2 linked regions of the Homo sapiens genome follow. Each later gene encodes a partner of the first gene's protein in a complex. Each region holds a gene or a part of one and is shown in the gene's direction. Other genes may lie near its edges. The genes, in order: NPTN and ATP2B1.

Region 1 (8,606 bases):
CAAAGTGACATCTGGTGCTCCCTCAGAAAGAATGTGGCCCCAGAGGCATGCCAGTGGCTTTAGACTCTCTGGGAGGACATGTTTGAGAGCAACAGCCCCTTCCCCATCTTTTCCTTTCTTCTCAGCAGTTATAAATCTCTCTGCCTGCAGTAAGTAGAGTGAGTGGCTGGTGAGGAGGTTTGTTGATGACACTGACAATATCTGGTGACTCCCTCCAGATGTGCACTCAGCAGTGAGCTGGGCAGAGGCGTGGGAAGGACGTTGGCTGGGAGCAGACGGCCTCTGCAAATGAATCTCTAGTTTCCTGCAACCTGGGAGTGTCCCCATGAGTTTTACTTTCCTACTTTATGAAGTGAACCTGCTTTCTTTGGGATTTCATGTACTCCTAATGCTTTTTCTCTCCAGGTATTTCTTTCCTGCTACATATTAGGACTCCCAAGGCAAGAGTGCACCTTTATTTAGACCTGGGAGTAAAGGGAAAGAGTTGCCTGTCTTTCGTGTGTTTTCAGCTTTGGCTCTGTGGGATCAGTTATGCCTCATTCCTGAAAAGGGCCTTTTTATCCCCCCAGAATGCTTTTGCTTTGCCAATACCACCTTCCTCAGCCTGCCTTTTGGAAAGGTTGAGAAGCTAAAAAGTCAGGTAAGAGAAGGCAGAGATGGACTTCAGAACCTGATTTTTAAATTTTAAGGCAAGGCTGGCTGCCACTGGTGAGAGTGATGCAGCAGCCTAGCGTGTTCCCAGCAGAGGTCTAGTCTTTGCCCTAAGAAGTCACCGCGCTTATGAGGTTGCTATCACAGTGCATGTGGTAGGTTAGATTTGAGAAATGGTTAGGATTGTTCTGTTGGATAAGTGCAGACACCTGCCCAGGGAAGCAGCTCTTTTTTTGTAAGAGTTTTCTTGGTTACTGAAATCAAATGGGGGACCAGTTTGTTATAGGAGACATCTGTGGCCAGCAAATCTGAACAGCTTCCTAGAGGGAAAGTACCTCTTTTAAACTAAGTTATTATAGACAGTGAATGAATCCTACCCTTAAAAGAGATGACGGCAGGGTAAGTGCAAAGTAAAACCTCCTTGCTCTAGTCTCTTGGGAGAGTATTGTAATGAAAGCAGCGTTTACTTCGTTGTTGTTGCATTGGGGTGAAAAATCTGAGATGCTGGAATGATGGCAATGTTTGCCTTCTCTCCTTCCCTTCCTGACAGCCAGTGTGGGCCAGGCTCCACTCTCCATCTTCACACCCTGCCCTTGCTCCAGTATTTCCATTCTGTTTTTCTCCTCTGTCTCTTTCTGTCTTTCTCTCAAACTCCATCCTGCTTCCACCCCTGCCCGCTTTTCTTCTCCTTTCCTGGAAGTAATCATTAAACAAAAGAAAAAGTTGAATGTTCTTTGGTGAGTTTCCTTCTTCTCTGCCTTTTCCTTCTTTAGCCAGTTCCCCTCAACCCCTGTGCACTCCATAGGAAGGACAAACTTACCTGTCTGCTTCCTTCCCATGTGCTTCTCCCCAAATTTTCATATAGATATATACGTACACTCCTTTTGGAATAAACGAAGAGGTACATTATATTTGACACAAACTTGGGAGTGTTAAGAGGTCATAAGTGTTTACCTATCAGATAACCATCTGTGGCTCTGTGTTGGATTTTTTTTATACCATTAGGAAAATGGGAATTTTTTTATAGGCCTGCCATACTTCTACTTTGCCAAATAGCACTTTATTATCAAGATACACCCATGGCTCATTTCAGACTCACTGAACTTTTTTTATATGAATGCACAGTCGTCATATTTTGGGCAGTCTGTGAGTTCTTGGTAACTCATCCCCTTACTACAAAAGCACTAAGTGAACAATACAAAAGTATAAAAGCACAAATTTGAACTTACATAGTTTAGTTTAAGTATGTTTCACTAGAAAATCAAATATTTAGATTTCTCACATTGAAAATGCTTAGGATTGAGGTTTAGCTGCTTCCTTTAAAAAAAAAAAAAAAAAAAAAGCCCCATGTCTTTTTTCTTTACCTACTGGAGTATTCTCAGACCATTTCCTACATGAAAACACCCACCTGCATTCCTTTAGTCCCCTGTATGGTCTCTTTGAGGATCAGTGCCCACTAGGTTGTCTTGTAGGTGGACTAATCTACAGATCACCTTTACCTTCAGTATTTTCAGGAACAAGTGAATCATGGAGTCAAATAAGAGCTTTGTTTTGTTCACTTGACTCACCACTTGACTGTATTCCCTGAAAATGTTAAATGATAGTTCTCTAAAAAGACCAGGTCAAGCTAGCAGCCTCTAGGCTTCCATCCATGTCACAGCTGGGCACCTGCTTGGGTGCACCTTCTGTGTTGGTGTCCTGCGGACTGCACTCCAGGAGCAGTCAGCCTGTGCTCCTGAGTCTCCCCTCCCCAGGCCCTGGAGGAATGGGGAGTGAACCCACTTAGTTGCTGAGGCCTGCAGTTCTTCTGGATATTTTAGTGACCTCACAGACAGCAAATTAAAACAGGAGCTGATTTAAGAAAAGAAGTGCTGGTACCAAAAAAGAACTTTCTGTTTTTACCTTGGGATAATTTTTTATAAGCAAGTCAAAGGGACTCTCTTTAAGTTACTGATGGAGAAGATATTTGAGGTTTTTTGGGGGGCCATTTTTAGTGGCTCTGATATATCCAAGCTCTTTTAGACACTTTAGAATGAAGAGCTGTTCTAATGTTCCAAAATCTATTCGTTGGTCAAAACATTTGGTAGCATATGAAGCTTTATACAGACTAGGGATATTGGAAAAGAAATGTGACTTTTAAAATGACACCTAAAACATGCATTCGGTGTCTGGTCTGTTAACTAGGGGCCATCTGGGTCAATAACAAGTTACCTCATGGAGAAAATGCAATAGGACCAAACAAGGAAGGAAATAGGAAGTAACTCAGTCTCTCTTGGGTTTAATGCTAACCTGCTAAGGTCAGGCAAAATTTAAGTGGATTTAGAAACCATAAAACCTTCTAGTGAGATGAATGCAGTGACAAAGGACCTTTGACCAGAGAGTCAACTCTTCATTATTCGGACTTTAAAGCCATCTTTTTGGAGGTGATATTGTATTAGGCAATCCGTTATTTACTAGACATTGCAGAGCACCCCTTCTAGATGATGAGGCGGATATAGGGGGAGTGAGGGCTGTGGTCCATTCGGTTGGGAAGATGGAACACGCAGATAAATCAGTGTGTGCTACAGTTCCACCGGTAACTTCACTCTCATAAGGTGGATTCCAGAAGCATCTTGTTTCCATTATCCCCCCAGTCCTCTTCCTCTCATCTAGCCAGTGGCTGTAATACTGAGGTGGAGAGAACAGTCATTGTTTAAGCTGGCTATCTTTTGGCCTGAGGGTTTGGGGTATGTTGATATTTGTCGGTTACTATGACTTCTTTTTTTTCCCCCCTCAATTGCATCAAACCCTTAAAACATGGTGGTAAGTGAGCGATATGCATGCTTTTGGAGTTTGTTTAATCTCCGCTTCAGTCTATACGATGCACAGTTCATAATGTTAACACTTTTCTTCAAGTTTACTTCATTCACTTTCACAACTAATTTGGATTTCAGTTTGCTGTTTAATCCTCATTTACTTTGGTTTCTGTATCTTTTTTCTGTAATTCTGTTCTTTCCCTCTCCCCTGACTTCCCTGTTAGGGGTCAAGTCGTTTTTTTGTCTGACCTGTAGGGGAGAGTGGTGCTGCAGATAGTGATTCAGTCCAGGAGAGTGGGGAGACATGAGGCTCTTTTGTTTGTCAGTGTGAAAGTGGATTTGGGGAGACAGATGAAGAGGGCTCCTGGGATTTTGCCCCCTTGTGAATCTCAACTGCTCCCACTTGCAGGCATGGCAGCTATGCCGGAGGCACTGTCGCTAAAACACCTCCATGCAACCCTTTGCATGTTACCAGCTTGTTGGGCTGGAAAGTGACATTACTAATCAGACACCAGGGAATACCCACACTCCAAAAGGAAAAACAGCCCGTGGTGTGAGGTGCTTGGGTTGGTGCCTACAGTGTCATGCTTTGAAAAGATTAGCCTGGCTATTGCGATTCTCCCTCCCCTGCTTTTTATTTTAAATTTGGGAGTAGATTGGTGTATTCTTGATTCGGCTCTCTTGCATTAGAATTTTGTATTTTCGAGTGCACAGCCAGAGCACTAAAAGTATTCCAAGTTTGCTCCTATGTCTTTTCATTTAAATCCCCAAAGTGCTTAGTTCCTAGCATGTAGCTGAGCTGGCTTGGCCGGGATGCTGAGCATTAGGATGTTGTGAGGGGAGAATTTAGGCTGGGCTTTTGTGTCTTAGTACCTGGTATGTCTTTGTATCTCTCCACTGCATACACAGCACACAGATGTCTTGGGTGTCCTTAAGTCTTAGTTTGTTCTCTGTACCCGTTTGATAGTGTATACTGTTGTTAGTAGTGGACTCCTGTGGACACTAGTGTGTCGCTAGCCTATTGTTTTGGCTGATGAGTCATTGGTTTGTGGTTAGTTCTTTTTTTTGAAATCCTTTTTTGCTCCAGTCACTGTGTGTGCTGGCGGTGGCTTTGCCTCTCCGTTGCCTCGAAGGAACAGGTGGAGCAATGTCTCCCTCTGACAGACATTACTCCCGACATGTGCTCCTGCAGATGCCTACACTGAGACTGTAATCTCCATAACTGCTTCATGTGCACCAAGCCCCCTTGTGGAATCCTGCTGAGAATTTTTCTAGAAGCCTTCAGTGAAATCAAACTGTTCTGAATCATTTAGTTTACCTGACTTTTGTATAATAAAAACAAACTAAGAGCACTTACTTGTTCCCTTCCCCTTGTGGGTCTTTTTAAAACATTCTCTCTCTGTGAATGTGTATCTCTGCTTAAAGGGGATCAAGTTGCACTTAGTTGAAACACGAAAGACTTATAAATCAGAATCATAAAGTATCAATTTAAGAAGGCTTAAACTCATATAATGTCAGCTTTTTGATTTTAAAAAAGTTATCTCATGGCTCCCCTGGGTTTGGCTTCTGGTTTTGGCCAGGGCACAGGAGTGAGCCTGTCTTTCTGAAGTCTTTTCTAGAGGGATGTCACCACTGTTCAGCTTTCCTCGGTGTGTCACAGAACATCCTCTGGTATACATACACTTGTTGCTGGCATAGCCCAGCATGGCTGACCCAATTTAGGTTGAACTATTGTGATTGCCTCTTCTCAATCTCATTCTCCAGACTAAAGACTCTTCTAAAGATTACAAAACAGCAAGAAAAACAGAGTGCCCTTTGGGGAAGTGAGGATGTGTGGCTAAATGTACAGATGGTACACATCCATTCACATTGCAGGATTGAGCCAAAACTGCATGCATTCACCACAAGAAAACAAACAGCAGGATTTTACAACTGAAATGTTGGTTTGTCTTCTCATCTATTTAAGAGTGAACCACTGGAACTTGGGGACAAGATGAGTATAACAATGTTGCAGCCTATCTGTCCGCTACAGTTGCAGTTTTTCATGACAAGCATTCAAAGTGTTAACTAAAACCATTGAAACAACATACCTGCCATTTAAACTTGAATCTAGAAATAATAACTCCATGAGTGTTTTGCACCTCCAGATGGAATGGCCTTTAATAAATGCTGTGAGTAGCCATGATTGCCACTTGCAGTTTGCTATTCTGTTAATCCTTATGCAGAATCTAACAGTTTTCTCCTTTCTTCTCTTATCTCTCATGGATTTTTAAAAAACTGAACACCATGTAGATGATGAACCAGCTGGACCAATGTAAGTACTTTATTGGACATTGATTCAACAGTATCTGATTGAATGATGTTGTGTTTGCAGTTTAATCAAATGGAGTAGCTAAGATTGGAGGGGAAGACAGTGAGTGGAAATGAAGGTTGCAGTGTAGATTTCTTAGCTTGACACAGATCTGACTAAAAACCACTTGATTCTCAGGATAGGTTATGCAGTCTTGTTTTCCAGTGGCCATACAAAGTGGAATACCATGCAAAAAACTTTTTTTTTTTTCAAATTTTGTGTATTTGATATACTTAAAATGTGGGGGAAATGGCCAGTATATCTGAGGCTCCCGGTTTTGTCAATGTTAAAACGTTTCTGATCCCAAGCATTTCAGATGAGGAATACTCAACCTGTAGCTACTTAAGGAATGTTTTTTTATGCACTCATATTGTGCCACAAAATTTCTCACTACACCAGGGATGGTAGTAAAAGGGTCCCTGTATTTCCATGTGTTATACTTTCAAAAGTTGTTACTGACCGAGTTTAACTCATGTAATGCAATTTGAGGCTGAACTATAGCCTGGATAAACTGTCTAGCCCCATTAACAATTGCTCGTATCCAAGAGAGAGGGTACTGCAGGTATGGAATCAATCTAAGATCGGCAGAATCTCCTAGAGTTGGACTAAAGAGTGAGAAGCAGACAAACAGCACCCAAATTTGTTAAGTACCAGAGGGCCCAGCACTGCCAGCTTATGATTACCTTTTATCAAGAAGGGACAGTGGTGTTGTGTTCAGTGGAGAAAAGTTTTACATATTCTCACCTGTATCGTAATTATAGTTCCGGATTCGAAGGGAAAGTACTCGTCTGCCTTGGGGGTCAAAAGGAGGATAAAATGAGGTATATACAGGTTGAGTCTACCTACTACCAAAATCCATAATCTGAAATGCTCCAAAATCTGAAGTTTTTTTTGTGTGCTCACATGAGGCTCAAAGGAAATGCTCATTGGAGCATTTTGAATTTTGGATTTTCAGATTAGGGATGCTGAACTGGTAAGTATAATGCAGATATTCCAAAATCTAAAAAAATTCAAAATCTGAAACATTTCTGATCCCAAGCATTTCAGATGAGGGATACTTAACCTGTAGCTACTTAAGGAATGTTTTTTTATGCACTCATATTGTGCCACAAAATTTCTCACTACACCAGGGATGGCAGTAAGTGAAAGAGTCCCTGTATTTCCATGTGTTATACTTTGAAAAGTTATTGACTGAGTTTAACTCATGTAATGCAATTTTTCCTCCAAAGGAAAACCAACTCTACCAACAATCACAAAGATAAAAACTTGCGCCAGAGAAACACAAATTAAGTACTGCTTACAATGTAAGTATGGCCTTCTGTAGCAGTCTTAAAAATTATATTCAAATGAATGTGCCTCTATTGACCTTGTTACAAATTCTTCAGTAATTGGTGTTATAAGATATTTTAGTTCATTTCAGAGCAGCTGATACTGATGAAGCCAGTTCTGTCTGCCCAGTTTAGGGACTGGAAAGGAACATTTTTCAGCTGCGTTGTTTTTTGTTGTTGTTTGGATTTTTTAAGATGGAGTCTCACTCTATTGCCCAAGCTGGAGTGCAGTGGTGTGATCTCGGCTCACTGCAACCTCCGCCTCCCGGGTTCAAGCAATTCTCCTGCCCCAGCCTCCTAAGTAGCTGGGATTACAGCTGCCCACCACCATGCCCAGCTAAATTTTGTATTTTTAGTAGAGACGGGGTTTCATCATGTTGGCCAGGGTGGTCTTGAACTCCTGACCTCAAGTGATCCGCCTGCCTCAGCCTCCCAGAAGTGCTGGGATTACAGGCATGAGCCAGTGTGCCCCGCCATCAGGTGCATTGTGTCACATGTTTATATAAATGCCATTTCAGAAGACATATTTTAAAATCAACACTTTTCACTACTATTATATCTTTACAAAGAGGTGAAAATTGTCACCTTCTTAGGTGGCTTATTCCCAGAGGCCTACTAGTCTTACCTCACGTCTGGGGGCAAGACAAGAATGGCCAGGTAGCAGCAGGGCCAGAATGTCATCTTGTTAGGCATATGGAGATCAGAATTTCACACCACATCCCTGAGCGTGCTGTTTGAACCAAAGTTTTGTGTGGCACACGGTGTAGTTGTGAGTGACAGTGCATAATCCCTTTATAATTTCCAAATACATATTTCTTTACAGATCTTTAGGTTCCTGAAACTGGTGGCAACATGACCTGCTAAAATTTTCTGCTTGGACCTCTTTGGTTCTCTCCCCTTTCAAGTGAGCAACACCACAATGACTGTCTAAAGCATGCCTTATTTAGCCTCTCCTGTAAGGGTGATCTAGCCAGGTACATTTTAAACAATGCTTCAGTGTAGAAGGTGTAAACTATTTTGGGCTTGATGTGCTGTGAATGTTGCTTTTTTTTTTCCTTTGTTAAAATATTTAAATAGAAGTGAAAAGGTCCTCTGAGGATCAGATCATGCATGCGCCATTTTTTACTTAATGCAGCTGTTAAATTGGCAAAGCTCTAAAATGCACTGCTGCCATCTAGTGATACACTTTTGTAAAGTACAGCAAAACCTACAGATATATACAGTATATAAATATATATATATATATATTTATATTTTTGGGGGTGGGAGAAATCCAAAATAAAGTAAATGCTTGTTTCATTTTTAAGCTGCTGATATTCATTCCTTATTGTATGTTGTCAGATGAGGAAATTGTGCAGTTCTGGTACATAAAGATGAGTAATATAAACTGAAATCTATAATTTTAAGGGCTTAACCTGTGACTTTAATAAGCTGGAACAGTCCACTGAATGGGTATAATGAATTGCAGTATATACGTATGAT
Region 2 (8,606 bases), on another chromosome or scaffold:
TATATGAAATGGGCTTATTTAGCTATGATTTCAGGAGGACGTTTTAGTTTTTACCTTGCTTTAGATAAGACAGCTAAATTGCTGTAATTAAGGGTGGATCTCTGTCCTGATTTTGGCTTGGGTGTAACTGCAAAGATCTTTGAAAAGTAACTGTTAATTTCCTACCATATAGTCTGCAAAAGTGAGTCACATTCGGGTGAGTTGAGGACAGAGCGCCACCTTTAATTTAAAATTTCGTGATTTTCTTTTATTAAAATGGTGAAAATTCGGGGTACGCCTTCTTGATTTTTATCGCAGCTGTCATTATTGGCATCCCCATTTTGACGTGTAAGGGGGAATTGTCTTCATTTTTCTGTATTCTCTCATTTCTCTTTTGAGAGAAATTTCTGCAATTGTATGGGAAATCTTTTTTTTATTGAAGCTTGGGATTTTAGCATTCTGAGATGAGATGAGAAACTAGTTTTGATTTGTGTTTATAATAATATTGATGGTCTGGATATTCTTGGTAAAAGAAGGAAAGTAATAGCTGCTTTTAATAGGTGGTTTGAACTAGCCATTGCCACCAAATAAAGGTACCTACCAGTATGACAGTGGCTTTACAATTTTTTTTTTTTTTTTAGCTGTAGGCCTATTAACAGATTCTAAAATAAACACGCAGGATCAGATATAGTAATTCTTTTTTGTTGTCTTCCAACAACTTACCTTTTGTGATTTTACTGTTTTACAGTTGCTTGTTCTTAAATAATATAGATGAACACTTCGAGCAGGTGTACTTATATTCAAAGTTTAATAAAGACCATGTTAGAAAAAGTGGTTTGTATACATGGCTCCTCTCAGGTGCATCTCATGTAAAAATAAATGGAGATTTTAATACTTAGAAAAGAGTTACTGTAGTGACAGTTGAGATTTCTTTCCCTTCCCTTCCTTCCCAAATCATAAGTATAAGGAACACTGTCTCTTTAGGCACAGCCTCCTTTTTTGATGTAACATGAGAAAAGGGATTTAGCTCCCAAGTAATGAATTAAGATGTGGATATTATTACATATAGTCTTACTTACAAACCGCAAAATATTACTGCCCTTCTATCTGCATTTAAGGTTTCATTCAACACTTGCAATTTCTCTATAGACAATGTAAAGCATTGGCTATTGAGCTGTAGATAAGTCTTTATTAAACTAAAATTAGCCAAAAACTCTGAGATGAAAGGTGTTTTATCCCCTTACTGCTATGTGTTCTCTGTCGAACTATGGAATATGGCCCCGGGATAAAGGACATTATTTGAGCTATTAGATTGTTGCATGTAGAGTAATTATATGTTGTTATATATACTTTCATAGATTCCTTGATTTCAGAGTAAGATTTACTAATTTCCTTTGACTGACAGACATGTTAACTTCATTTCAGATGCAACAGTCTCTTACCATGGGAAATGAGTTTTAAAAGGAACGGCCACTTATAACTATTGGTCTTCTGTAATATTGAACAAAATAATATTTGGTTTTTTTCCCTTACATTTTACACATGAATACAGTAAAATTGATGTTTTCACTTTTTTATTCTGGAATTTTGTAATGGATGAGCAAAAAACAATAAAAGGACTGAGGATCAGAAAGCAGAAACAAACATTTAGGTTTTTGCATCTCGGGCAAGAGTATTGACCAGATGGAAGGGAATAATTATTTTCTAGTAGCTGTCATGATATGTAATAAAGGTACTAATAGTAGCTTATTTGGGACTAGGTGGAATCTGAGGTGACATTGCCAGGAAAATAACATACAATGGTTATGGGAATAATTTTCATAAAGATAAATAACTTTAAAAAATTCACTTTTTAGCTTTTAGAAATGTTATCTATACATACCACATATATTGTTGTCTTGTTAAAATTTTTTATTATAGAAATTATCAAACATAGGAAAGTAGAGAGAATGATATACTTACTGGCCAGTTTTGACAATTACCAACTCTCGTGGTCCATCACATTTCATTTATATCTTAACACAAGAAATGGTTCTGTTATAAATGGGGACATAGGACAGGTAATCGAATCGAATTTTTGTATTTGTATTTTTCAGAATACGGTATACTCAATAGTGTCCAATATCTAATTAAATCTGAATGGTCAGTTTTTATGTTCTTCGTTGATTCTTTAGTGGCATATACATTTTAATTTTTCTGGTGGTAGTTTGTGTATTTTACAGCAGGTGCCCAAAGATAGTGTCTCTCAAATTTTGCTGTCTTCAGAAATCACAGGTATTATTATTAACTACTTTACAGTTTTCAGAATGTATTTACATATGACCTCATTTGATTCTCACAATAATCCTGTGTGGTGAGTAAGGCAGACAATTGTACTTTTTTTTGTTTTTTGTTTTTTGTTTTTTTTCTGGTAGGCAAAGTGATTTGTCTAGGCCCTAAGGTCATATAGCTAGCAGCTTTTTTAGCCCAAACTGGACTTTAGGTGGCTTCTAGATTTTGCTCATTGCTCTTCTCATTATACACGTTTATGTAAGTTTATGAAAGTTATGTATGGAAAATCAGTTTTGATCAGAGTAAATTTAATAGAGAAATATGAATGGGTTTGTTTGGGTTGAGCTTTATAAATTTAATCATTACTTATATTTGGTGTAATACAAACAGTTTGTGTTTTGATTTACTTAACAGCTGAGTGAATGTGAACGTATCTGAAATACTATATTTTTAATATTGTGGATTTTTTTAAGTTAGGAATTTTGATTTCAAAGAACTGTTGGCCTAGGGGTGTCTTAAATCTTGAATAAAAATAAAATGTGCTGTACTAAAAGTTTCTTCTTTAAATTTCTGCTGTAACTTTTTATGCACTTGTTTTTATACTATAACATGTTTATTACCTAAATCTCTTTGAAATATTCATTTGTTCTGTAATGAAATTTAGTTTAAAAGGTTCCAAATGAGGAGGTTTTAGTTCCTGAAATCCAAAACCTGGTTATAAATCTCACAAGAAAGGTGTGGTTCTCCAGCATTAATGTGCATGAAGAATCACCTGGGGGAGTTACTGAAAGTGCAGATTCCTTGGCATTGCCCCTGGAATTTTGATTCAGCAGATTTGAGGTGGGGCCAAATGCTACAGTAGTCTGCATTTTGAGAAACATTGACATTGCATTTATAACTAAGTTAAAGTTACATGGTAGAGATACCTAAATCAGTAGCAAAGTTTGATTTGTTGATGTCGATGGTTTTTGTGACAATCCTAGAACTGATAAATTGAAAATATTTCTGTTATCTATGTATGCCCAGTCTTTCAGAAGATCCATCTGTGGTTACTTAAGTTACTTATTAAGCACTGTAAACTATTAGAGAATGTTCTTTTATTTTCATGTCTTAATGTCTGCCATTTTCAAATGACTTAGACACCAGAGTTTATATTCATAAAAATAATGCATGCTGTATCCTTACAGTAGTGTGTGTTTATCCTTTAGTCTAGCTCTTTGTTAGAAGAAAAGATCGGATATTCCTTCAGACTAAAAGGACATAAGTTAGTGGATAGATAGCTCTCTTTAATTTTAGTTAACAAGCAGTTGCTCTTTCAAAAACAGCAAGTAGATCTTCCAAGAATATTAGTGATAGCATACTAATTGATAATTTACTATTTTATGCATTAAAACAGAAGTTACTGCTGTCTCACTTAAATGTTAAATAACCGTTTGTGTAGTTCACCAATCTACTCTGACTTTTGGAACTATTTTATCTAATACCATATCCACGTGAATTACCTGCCTTTAATAATTTTCCTCTTTAAGACCAGTTTTGAAATGCAGTTGTTTTTTGCTTCATTTATAACAGTATAGCAAATAGCCTGTATCTGCATTTAAAATATATTTTATAATAAAATTAATTTCAAAGCAGGTTCATCTCAAGACTGTTGGGAACCTGTTTTTGTTTGTTCCAAAACTTAGTCTTGTTGGCTACACCTTAAGGTTTATTTAGGAATCATAGCTTGTAATTTACTAAAGCTTATGGTAATCTAAATTAATAAATATTTTTGGCAGAGAGGTCCAAATAAACTGTGGGCACATTTTTTTTTGCCATATTTTTAAAAGCTATTTTCTATTAAATTTTTCCTAGGACAGTGTCAGCTATTCCAAATCGTATGTGGTGTTTTTAGTTATAAGAATATTTGGTATTTCTAAGTACAGTGACTTCCAACAATATGGTTTCTTAAAATATGGGATACCTGCTTTTGTAGTAATACTACTGTCACCTGGGCCTCTGAGGGAACAAATAAAGGTAGTGTTGAATGGACCAATGCTTGCTTACACTGTGAAATCTGAGATTACACTGCCTAACTGTAAACTGGCATGACTACTGTACAGACCTGATAAATTTAGGAGTCAAATTTATGTTTTCTGAAAAAAATAGGTCTTAAAGAAGATTTGACTGTTTAACTTGAAAGATGCTTTTTAAATACTTTTTTATTAACAATGTGGATCTATTATTCATTGTATTAACCCTGTGAGTGAGTTCTCTCTCAGGAGGATTTTAAATAATAATCTTGTACTCTCAAAACTCTCAGATCTGCTGCTTTAATCTACCTTTCATATTTGTGCCAGAATTTTCTTTTGTTTTTCAATAACCTATTTTAAACCACAGTTTCTTCACTAAAACTTTCATCTTTTTTTTATTTTTCTCTTTATCAAAATACAACTTGACTCTGAAGGCCTTTTATAAAGTAGCTCAGTGTTTTCTAAATTGTGTTTTAGAATGCTGGTTCCAAAAAATATTAATAGGGATTTCCTGGGGGAAAGAGGCACAACCAAACTCCAGGATATGCTGGTTTATGCAGTTTGGAACTTCTCTGGTACTTCAAGGTGCTAATAAGGGCTGAATCTAAATGTGGCTAGTGTTTTGTCCTCTCATTTCACAAAACTCCCTTTAGTGGAACATCTCACCTTGTTAACTTTGTGTACCAGGATCACTGCTTTGCACAACTCCAGGGGATGCTGTTCACATACAACACAAAATGAATTGTGTTTCCTGGAGTTGAGAGCTGTGTTGCATACTGTAGTATTGCTGACTGTCCACTGTGTGACGGTCTTAGAGTCTGGTGGTCCCTCATCCTTTTGTTGTGAATGTGTATGTGTTTTTCCTCTCACCTGATAGGACCCTTAGGGGCCAGATGCTGTGCTTGATGCCTATAAGTCCTAGCACTTTGGGAGGCTGAGGCAGGAGGTTCGCTTGAGGCCAGGAGTTCGAGGCTGCCTGGGTGACACAGCAAAGAACCTGTTTACCAAACAAAAAAACCAAATTAACTGCCACATTGAAATTCAGAAGTGGAAAAGTCCTGCCTGTAGAGAAGCTAAATTCTACTGTCCTAGTAACATTCTGTGAAATGTATGTAGCTATCTTCCAGAAATAAAACATTGCCTTATGAACCCATCTGAGTAAGGTTAAAATTCCAAAGGTAAAAAGGTTTTAAAAATCTCCCAGAAAAATTTCCTTAACCTTCTCTGCTTTACTTTAACAGAAGCTACACAATGTCTAAATCCTAAACCAATATGCCAAAAAAAATAGTACCTGAACATTTGCTGGATAAAGTTCTATATATCGTGATATAGAACCCTATATCTTATCTCAGTTCTTTTATGTTATCTCCAAATGAATTACTAAGACAAAGGGATAATAAATGGGAAGTGTACAACCCGGAGGACTTCAGACCAGAAAATCAAAGAGAGATGATGGGAAAGGGTGGAGTAATGCTGAGTTTTGAAGAATGGGCACATTTAGACAGACCAAAGACTGAGCATCATATCATTGCTGCCGTTCCATGAACTGAGAGCAAACTGTTAGATCATGACCTGCTACAGAATCACTAGGCATCAGGAAGAAGAGTAGGTATATGGTCTGTATTAGAGTATAGCAATGGATTATTCTTCCAGCTGCCAAGAAGTCAAGAAGGAAAGCCTGTATTTGACTTTATCATTTCTATTGAATGTCTGAGTGATACATAGAGTAGTAATTTTAGACATTTAAGTAACTAAAGATTTATATAGCTTTAGTATGTAAGCTGTTATATTTAAAAATGCTTGAAAAAATAAGAGTTGTTCTCCAGAAATTATTCATTTTCCTATGATTAGCACAGCTGAGACCTTACAGGTGCACTGCTATTGAGTATTCTCCCAACCTTTTAAATTTTATAGGTCTAATTGTTGGTAAGGTATTGTGGAAGGAGTTCTAAGACTTGCTCCTGCTTTAATTGACGTTGCAATAATAATCATAATAAAATTGTTGGTCAAAGAGTAGCACAGGAGTGGTTTTGGTAGTGAAGAAAATAAAAAGAAATCTGAAGGTAGAGATGAATGGAATCAGCAAAAGTGAAATTGGTTAGATTAGTAAGTTGTTTTTCTACTGGGACACTCATGGATGATACTGACATATACTCCATTCTCCCTTGCTAATATCTAGATTTTTTTAGTACCTCTAATACTAAGAGATTTTTAATTTCTTTGCTATACTTCTGTCCTTTTCTTCTCTATTCATGCTCAAAAGAAAGTAAGTGCTATAACTACTCTTTTTTGTTTGCTTAAAAAATGACTCATGAACTTAAGGTACTTAAGTGTGGACACTCCTGACAACTAATACCATAGCGGAGAACTACTGAGTTAAAGGGTACCAGTGCAAATAGAGGGCTGAAAACAAGGAAGGTCAGTCAGTGAATGGGAAAGAAATATGACAAAGCCTAGGAAAGGGAGCTCCTCTAGCATCAAACTGTCTGCATGTCGAGTCTCAGAAAAACAAGGATTCGTCAGTCAACCCCTTTCTGCATGCACAGTGGATTTAGGGTAAAGTTTATGTTACCCTGTCTTTGGCCGAGCGCAGTGGCTCCTGCCTGTAATCCCAGCCCTTTGGGAGACTGAAGCAGGAGGATTGCTTGACCACAGGAGTCTGAGACCAGCCTGGGCAACATGACAAAACCTCATCTCTACTAAAAAAAAAAAAAAAAAAAAATTTAGCCAGGCATGGTGTCGTGTACCTGTAGTCCTAGCTACTTGGGAGGCTGAGGTAGGAGGATCGCTTGATTCTAGGAGGTAGAGGTTGCAGTGAACTGAGATTGTGCCACAGCACTACAGCCTGGGCGACAGAGGGAGACCGTCTCTGTCTCAAAAAATAGATGACCCTGCCTTTGAGCTTAAGCACTACTGTTTTTATGTACATAATTTAATGCTGGAACTTGATCACCTCCGGCCCTCCTGCTGACAGCATTTCTTTTGCTAGAAATACCCACCTTTCTCAGAGCCTGTGTCTCCTTTGGTTTTGGTTTTTACTCCATGATATGTTAAGGACTCACCAGATTTAAATGTGAAATTTATCTTCACCACTAAAAAGCCCACTTGTCTTGGATAAATCACTTGGTTTCTTTAACTCCTCAAAAAGTACAAAGTCAGGGGGTTTTGATTTTTCTCTCTTGAAAATTTGGCTTTTAACAAAATTTGTATAGCAAAAACAGGTTACCCGCTCCCCCCAAACTTTCAACCATTTATTTCTTTATTCTGTTAGGTTTGCCTTCCAATTTTGTCTTTTAACTACTTTGTCATCATTTTGACGTTTCGTCTGTGATACACCGTGTTTGATTTATGAAGATAAATACATTTATTGAAAAGCTAAATTATCTAAGATTTCAGTTAAACAAGTGGCATATTACTAGCATTTAACTCTGCCTCTTGCCAAACATATACTAAAATGAGAATAAGGGAATTCTTTTTTAAAAAAGCCATAAATCCACAAGGGAGAAGAGAAACCCACACCAAAATTTTAGAAGGCGTTGACTTAGTAGACTTAAAAAGCTGATCTCTAAGTAATAGAAAAGCCCAGAAACAAGTCAGTTTATAGAATTCCCTGAGAGCTCAAAGCTGGGAAAACATGGGACCCATGGTGAAGAGGGGACAGGGGGGCAAAACGGGAGAACTGGTTGAAATTTTAGGAATTTGATACCCAGATATCTTTCCCTCTGTCTGTACTCTGTGATCTCTTTTCCTTCATCCTTGCAGAAGGCTGGAAGCTTGCTTTCTGGAGAAGGCTATGCACACTGGGAATACAGTTGAAAACCAGGGTACCACACTCAAAACCGAGTGTTTACCTATTTATGTTAAGATCACCAGTCTTCTTCCCTCACCCAGCTTTCAGAATTCTGGCCAGAATAGAAGTGTCTTATCTAACCTGACCAGCTCAAGGTAAAAGACCTCAAGAATCGGACATTGGCTGTGTCTGTGTCTCCAAAGAAAATGTCCCAGTCAGCTCACCCTACTGTGAAACCCATATTGAATCCAGAACTTCTATTTAGTTTGTGTCCTTTTTTTCTCATAAACAAATTTGTTATAGTCTTACTAAGATATAATTGGCATAGAATAAACTTTACACTTAAAGTGAAAAACTTGAGTTCTGAGGCATGTATATATTTCCACAGTCGCCACCACAGTCAGGTAATCATTCCCCTAAATTTTTTGTGCCTCCTTATCTTCCTTCCCTTCCCCTACCCCAGCTCCTCCTTTCCTCAGGCAGCCCCGATCTGCTTTCTGTCGCTATAGAATAATTTGACTTTTCTGGAATTTTATGTACATGGAATCATACAG

Evidence for each region.
Region 2: the proteins of NPTN (region 1) and ATP2B1 are in contact, whole or in part, in a cryo-EM structure (PDB 6A69), measured with the Homo sapiens proteins. Residues at the interface, in NP_036560.1 of Homo sapiens: Arg245, Ser246, Asn248, Arg332, Arg334, Pro339, Pro342, Phe343, Gly345, Ile346, Glu349, Ile350, Ile352, Leu353, Ile356, Ile357, Tyr360; in NP_001353449.1 of Homo sapiens: Phe954, Asp955, Ile956, Asp957, Glu996, Arg997, Asn998, Val999, Glu1039, Gln1040, Leu1042, Trp1043, Ile1045, Phe1046, Met1049, Gly1050, Leu1052, Leu1053, Gln1056.

The regions. Positions count from the first base shown.
Region 1 is NC_000015.10:73,560,390-73,568,995, reverse strand, and holds part of NPTN (neuroplastin isoform b precursor), read left to right. Parts: exon of another isoform or gene 1-2,058; intron 2,059-5,210; exon of another isoform or gene 5,211-5,617; intron 5,618-5,738; coding exon 5,739-5,760; intron 5,761-7,025; coding exon 7,026-7,086; 3' UTR 7,087-7,100; intron 7,101-7,947; 3' UTR 7,948-8,606. UniProt on the Homo sapiens protein: Probable homophilic and heterophilic cell adhesion molecule involved in long term potentiation at hippocampal excitatory synapses through activation of p38MAPK. May also regulate neurite outgrowth by activating the FGFR1 signaling pathway.
Region 2 is NC_000012.12:89,698,391-89,706,996, reverse strand, and holds part of ATP2B1 (plasma membrane calcium-transporting ATPase 1), read left to right. Parts: intron 1-8,606. UniProt on the Homo sapiens protein: Catalyzes the hydrolysis of ATP coupled with the transport of calcium from the cytoplasm to the extracellular space thereby maintaining intracellular calcium homeostasis.